2 linked regions of the Homo sapiens genome follow. The protein of the gene in region 1 purifies or fractionates together with the protein of each later gene. This does not show direct contact. Each region holds a gene or a part of one and is shown in the gene's direction. Other genes may lie near its edges.

Region 1 (3,654 bases):
TATTCTCTTTGTATATATTATTTGCAGTGAAAATAACTCTTGGAAGAATGTAAACGTTAATATTTAGCATGGGAATTTTAGAAAATACAGATGTGCATAAAGAATAGATTATCCACATTTTTTACGATTCAGGGAAAACTACTGACAACATTTTGATGTACTTATGAAAACACATACAGACGTATACTAATATACGTATATATCTTCACATACACATTTATAAAAATGAGATAATGAGACATATTCTTTTTCAAAAACCTGATTGTGTTCACCTAATGTACCATGGATAGCTTTTAAAGTCAGTCCATATAAATCTATGTCATCTGGCCGGGCACAGTGGCTCATGCCTGTAATCCCAGAACTTTGGGAGGCCGAGGCAGTTGGATCACCTGAGGTCAGGAGTTCGAGACCAGCCTGACTGATACGGTGAAACCCCGTCTCTACTAAAAATACAAAAATTAGCCAGGGGTGGTGGTGGGCACCTCTAATCCCAGCTACTCGGGAGGCTGAGGCAGGAGAATCACTTGAACCCAGGAGGTGGAGGTTGCAGTGAGCCAAGATCGTGCCACTGCACTCCAGCCTGGGCAACAAGAACAAAACTTTATTTCAAAAAAAAAACAAAAAAACCACCACCACAATAAAAAACCAACAACAACAATAAAAAACCAACTACATCATCTTTTTTAATAGCTCCATAGTCTGTGGGGATATCATGATTTATTCACCCAACCTCGAGTGATGAACATTTATTTCCACCTTTCTATTAGAAATTATTAAAATGATAAATAATTATTAAGAATTATAATTAACAAAAATAACAGAAGTAATTGCTTCCAGCATCCTTGCAATGTCATTTTTTAAAAAATGTATTTTTATTTGTTTTTGAGATGGGGTCACATTATGTTGCCTAGGCTGGTATTGAAATCCTGGCTTCAAGTGATCCTCCCACCTTGGCCTCTCAAAACACTGGGATCACAGGTGTGAGCCACCATGCCTGGCCTTATAATGTCATTTTTAAATGGCTGCATCATAGTCCTTGCAGGACAGGCCATGCCTTCTTTAGCGATTCTCCTATTACTGGATGTCTTTTCCAGTCTGGTACCACTGTGACTGTGCTGTGATGAGCATCTTTTTTCCTAAAGCGCTGCATGTAGTGCAAAGGGCTGCTGACTTAGGTATCTGTTCTTCCTGCCCCTTTCCCACAGGCTTACCTCTTCCCAGCCATGGCCATCTTCAAGGCAGAAGATGCCAGTGGGGAGGCAGCAGCCATGCTGAACAACATGCGTGTTTACGGCACCTGTGTGCTCACCTGCATGGCCACTGTGGTGTTTGTGGGTGTCAAGTATGTCAACAAGTTTGCCCTTGTCTTCCTGGGTTGTGTCATCCTCTCCATCCTGGCCATCTATGCTGGGGTCATCAAGTCTGCCTTCGACCCACCCAACTTCCCGTGAGTGCTGCTGCTCTGAGCCCAAGGAATCGTCCTCCTACCTCCCTGGCCCTGTTTCAGAGTCTCTGCCAAACTCCCCCTCCCTGCCCCTCAGAATCTCAGAGTGGTGTGGGTTGGGAGTAGCTTCCCTTGGGAGGGAAAATCTCTCTTAGTTTGGGGGCAATCTCTTCAGAGTGAGGTAACTTTTCTGGAGGAGGGAACAATTTACCTTGTAAGAGTCAACTTCTTGCTGGTAGGGTGGACTTAGGAAGAATTAAGTGGGAATGAGTTCCAAAGCAATGAATGCTGTCTGTGGTAGGGAAACCTTTCCTGGGTGGGGACAACCTCCTGGAATGGGACAATCTCCTAGTGTTGGACAACTCCTCCAGGATGGGAAAAGACACAGAAGTCTACAGGGTCCAGGGACTCAGATCCAAGTCCACTCCATCCACTGCTCAGAGGTGGAGGGCGGCCCCCGAGACCGCTGTCCACGGTGCTGAAACACAGCATTGCACTAATGCGGTGCTTCTCCACCTTGGCTGCTTATTAGAATCACTTGGGGAGCTTAAGAAAAAAAAAAAAAAGCCAATGGCCAGGCTTCATTTAAATTAAACGAGGAACTCTGGATATGGGGACCTGGCGTCCGTGTGTTTAAAAGGTCTCCCGGTGGCTGTATTGTGCAGCGAGGGCAAGGTTATGTGGCTCCCCACCTTCCTCCCTTGTTTCTCTCCCTAGGATCTGCCTCCTGGGTAACCGCACGCTGTCTCGCCATGGCTTTGATGTCTGTGCCAAGCTGGCTTGGGAAGGAAATGAGACGGTGACCACACGGCTATGGGGCCTTTTCTGCTCCTCTCGCTTCCTCAACGCCACCTGTGATGAATACTTCACCCGAAACAATGTCACAGAGATCCAGGGCATCCCTGGTGCTGCCAGTGGCCTCATCAAAGGTCTGCGGAGGGACAAGGGCTGGCATCCAGGGAACGCTGCAGGGATTGTAGGTTAAGCGGTCAGGATTAAGGGGCCCTCCTTGGGATTCAGCTAAATTCAATCAGCTTTAATTGAGCACCTACTCTGAGTTACATTCTGTCCTTGGCATCAGGGAGGAGTAAGGTGAAAAGGAGACAAGTATCTCACCGCTAGTAGGAAAAGAAGTCATCAACGTAACAGGTGGTCACTGAGCACCTACAGAGTGCCCAGCATTGTGCTGAGTGCTAGGAACACAAAATAAATAAGCCACAGTTCCTGGCCTCAAGGAGACTAATGGCAGAAATAGATGTAATAGCAAATACATTATGCCATATGTAGATGTGCATTCAATGCACAGAGAATGCCCGGGGGGGGAGAGTTCATGTGTATAAGATGGCAATAGGCTTCCTGGACTCAACTGAGGAGGGTTTTGAAGGACAAATGAAAGATCTTCAATTCTATGAGAGGAGTAAGGAAATTGCAACCAGAAGAACAGCTTGCCTAAAAGCAGGCAGAGGCAGAAGAGTTTATTGTGTCTTTCCAATCACAAGTAATTTGGTATGACTGGGGCATAAAGAGCAAAATAAGGTGGAGAAAGAAGCGATGTAGGAGAGGCTGGCATGAGCCAGATCATGGCAGGCCTTGGAAGCCATTTTGGAGAGTTGGGACCACATTCTGAAGGCAATGAGGAGCCACCAAGGGGTTTTGGGAAAGGGAGGGACGTGGTCAGATCTCCATTTTTTGAAGGTTCATTCTGGCTGCTAATGTGGATGGGTTAAAGGGGTGAGAGGAGAGAGGCAGGGGGCCCAGGAAGGGGCTGAGGCTATGAGTCCAGGAGAGAGAGATGGTGGTTTTCTGAGTGAGAGTGATGGAATGATGTCTGTGGGAATTACTGCAGTGCTTCTCAACCAGGGCTGTTTTGCCACCCAGTAAACATTTGGCTGTGTCTGCAGACGTTTTTGGTTGTCAAAACTGGAGGGGTGTACCTGGCATCTAGTAGGTAGAGGCCACGATGCTGCTAAACATCCTACAATGCTATAGGACAGTCCTCCACAGCAAAGAATTATCTGGCCGGGAGTGTCACTAGTGCCACAGTGGAGAGACCTTGGAATGGAGAGAAGGGGCATATTTAAGAAATATTAAGGAGGGGTTAAAGGACAGAAGTTGGAGGTGGTATTGAAGTTGGGGAAGGGGAGAGGGAGCAGTGTAGGGCAGGGTGTCAGAATTGATGATGGTGCCATTTACTGAAATATGGGATGCAG
Region 2 (3,654 bases), on another chromosome or scaffold:
GTCTGAACGTTTCTTTTTGCTCTAAGAGTAATTTTTGAGGAAGTTGAAAACTTATGGAAGAGATGAGAAACAAGTGGTTTATCTTAAATAGGTATTTTTTATCAGTGAGTTAGATTGATATGGAGTCATCTCACTTGGATTTATCCCAGTAGCTGAGTGAACTTCTGTTGTTTCCCTTCTAGACTCATATGTAGCCTCAGTGTTAGAGATGAAGAATATAGATACGAAACTTTTCAGAATAGTGTTTGCAAGTAGAAGGTGCACGTTATTCATTGGTTTAACAACTCTCTTGATTAAGAAAATTCAGGCTTTTTGTCAGGGCAGCATAAATACCTAAATTAGACCTCAAAATTTTAGTAATAATTCGTCATTGTATATTTAGCTTGCAGTTGTAATCATGTGACTTTTATTAATACCAGTAGCTCTGGAAATATGACTCTTTTAAGACATATTTACAGTAGAAAGTTAAAATTAGTATTTTAATTTAATATTTAGTTAATGTGGTTGAGGCTTAGGTATTTCACACTTAAGAAATCTGTGGTAATTGGTCATGATTGTGCTTTTCACAGTTTATTTATTTAGAGACAAGGTCTCACTCTGTTGCCCAGGCTTGAGTACAGTGGCGTGATCTCGGCTCACTGCAGCCTCTGTCTGCCGGGCTCAAGTGATTTTCCTACCTCAGCCTCTGCAGTAGCTGGGACTATAGACATGCACCACCACGCCTGGCTACTTTATTTCTTGTAGAGGTGGGGTTGCGCCACGTTGCCCAGGCTGGTCTCGAACTCCTGGCTTCAAGCAATCTAGCCGCCTCAGCCTCCCAAAGTGCTGGGATTACAGGCGTGAGGCACCTCAACCAGCCTCACTATTGATTAAAAAATTTTTTTTCATCACTTTTGGGAGACTGAGGTGGGAGGATCACTTGAGCTAAAGATCTTGAGATTAGCCTGGGCAACATAGAGAGACCCTATCTCTACAAAAAAAAAAAAAAAATTAGCTAGGCCTGGTGGCATGTGTCTGTGGTCTTAGCTACTTGGGAAGGTGAGGTGGGAGGATCTCTTGAGCCTGGGTGGTCAAGGTTGCAGTGAGCTGTTTTTTTGTGCCACTGAACTACAGCCTGGGCAACAGAGACCCTGTCTCAAAAAAAAAAAAAAAGTCTTCATTAAACTTTTAGTTTTGAGATAATTGTAGATTGACATGCAATCCTAAGAAATGAGATTCTTTGTACCTTTTACAAAGTTTCCATTGATGGAAACATTTTGTCAAAACTATGCTACAACATCACAACCATGATACTGACAGTTAAGATAGGGAACCTTTAATCCCAGTGCTTTGGGAGTCTGAGGCCACAGGATCCCTTGAGGCTAGACCAGCCTGGACAATATGGTAAGTTCTGGTCTCTACAAGAAATTTAAAAGCTACCTTGGCATGATGTTGTGCCCCTGTCAGCTCAGGCGTCTGCGGCAAGAGTATTGTTTGAGCCCAGGAGTTCAAGGTTGCAGTGAGCTATGATCGTGCCACTACACTTAGCTTGGGCAGCAAAGTGAGACCCTATCTCTTTAAAAAAAAAAAAAAGAGAGAGAGAGAGATAGAACATTTTCATGGATTCCAAGGATCCCTTATGTTGCTATCTTATGGCCATACTAACCCCACCCCCACCCTTCCATGATCCCTGATGATCACAAATCTGGCAATCTTTGTCAGATATGTAGTTTACACATATTTTCTCCCAGTATGTAGTTTTCATTTTCTTAATAGGGTCTTTCATAGAACCAAAATATTTCATTTTGATTAAGTCTAATTTACCGCTTTTTATGGATCATGCTTTTAGTTTCAGGTCTTATTAACTCTTTGCCTAGTCCTAGATCTCAAAGACTCTCTCCTATTTAAAAAATAAATAAAAGTAATATTGTTTTACATATTACATTTATTTTTTATTTAGAGACAGGGTCTCATTCTGTCACCCAGGCTGAAGTACAGTGGCACAGTCACAGTTCACTGTAACCTCAAAGTCCTGGGCTCAAGTGATCCTTATGCCTCAGCCTCCCAAGTAGATGGGACTACACATCCATGCTGCCATGCCTGGCTAATTTTTAAAATTTTTTGTAGAGGTGGGGGTGTCTCCGTATTGCTTAGGGTGGTCTCGAACTTCTGACCTCAAGCAGTCCTTCGGCCTTGGCTTCCTGAAGTGCTAGAGTTACAGGCGTGAGCCACAGCACCTGGCCTACATATTACATTTAAGTCTGTGATGCATTTTGAATTTTTATGTCAAGTGTGAGATTTAACTTGAGGTTCCTTTTTGTGGGGTGGATAGTATGTTCGGGTGTTCTGGCACCTATCTTTTCTCATTGAATTGCTTTTGCACCTTTCTTAAAAATCAGTTGAGCGTATTTGTGTGAGTCTATTTCTAAGTTCCCCACTGTGTTAGATTGAGCTGTATGTGATCTATATGTATGTTCCTCTGTCAGTCCCACTGTCTTAAGCTGTAGCTGTTTAAGTCTGAAATTGGGCAGACTCATTCCTCCTACTTTATCCTTTATTTTCACAATTGTTTTTAGATATTCTAACTCATTTGTCTTTCCATGTAAATTTTAGAATAAAGTGATTATATATAATTTTGGTGTTCATTACTAGAATCTAGACATACAGTTAATTTTATGTTTATCTTGTATTCTGTGACATTGCTGGACTCAGTTCTAGGAGTATTTTTGGATAGATTGTCATTTTTTTAATGTGGACAATCATCTTCAAATATGGAGGTTTTATTTATCTGCAGATACGGAGAGTTTTATTTCTCCCTTTTCTATCTGTATGCCTTTTATCTCCTTTTCTTGCTATATTTCACTGGCTGCAACTTCCGCACTGTGTTGAATAAGAGTAGTGAGAGTGGACATCCTTGCCTTGTTTCCCATTTTAAGGGAAAAGTATCTGTTGTTTCATCATTAAGTATAATGTTAACTGTAAATTTTTGGTAGATGATCTTTGTCAAGTTATGAAAGTTCTGTTGTATTCCTATTTTTCTGAAATTTTTTTATCATTAACTTTCAATATTAACTTTTTGTCAGATGTTTTGTCTGTGTTGATTGATAGGATTATATGATTTTTCTTCCTTAGCCTGTTAATATGGTGATTTTATATGATTAATATGATTGATTTTCAAGTATTGAGACAGTCTTGCATGAGCCCTACTTTGTCATATAGTGTATCTCTTAATTCTATCTTCTAATGTTTTGTTATGGGTTATTGTGTCTATATTCATGAGGAATATGAGTCTAATTTTCTTTTTGTGCTATCTTTGGTTTGGCATCAGAGTAATACTTCATAAAATGAATTAGGAAGCATTGCATCCTCTTCTGTTTTTTAGAAGATATTGTGTATAATTGGTGTTAACTTTTCTTAAGTATTTGGTAGAACTCACCAGTGAAACGGTCTGGGCCTGGAGATTTCTTTATTAGGAGATTTACAGTTATGAATTTAGTTAACCTAAAAGTTTTTATAGGACTGTTCCAATTATCTATTTCATATGGGTGACTTGTGGTTTGTTTCTGATAAATTTATCCATTTTGTCCAAGTTGTCAGTGTTTGTATAGTCCCTTATTCTTTTTGTTTTTTGTCTTTTGTTCTTGAGACGGCATTTTTCTATCGCCCAGGCTAGAG

The links. Proteins that work in one complex are often made in the same cells at the same time.
Region 2: the proteins of SLC12A5 (region 1) and SUGT1 purify together in Homo sapiens (affinity purification with mass spectrometry; one large-scale study listed by BioGRID and IntAct). This does not show direct contact.

The regions. Positions count from the first base shown.
Region 1 is NC_000020.11:46,039,168-46,042,821, forward strand, and holds part of SLC12A5 (solute carrier family 12 member 5), read left to right. Parts: intron 1-1,205; coding exon 1,206-1,447; intron 1,448-2,161; coding exon 2,162-2,373; intron 2,374-3,654. UniProt on the Homo sapiens protein: Mediates electroneutral potassium-chloride cotransport in mature neurons and is required for neuronal Cl(-) homeostasis.
Region 2 is NC_000013.11:52,680,279-52,683,932, forward strand, and holds part of SUGT1 (protein SGT1 homolog), read left to right. Parts: intron 1-3,654. UniProt on the Homo sapiens protein: May play a role in ubiquitination and subsequent proteasomal degradation of target proteins.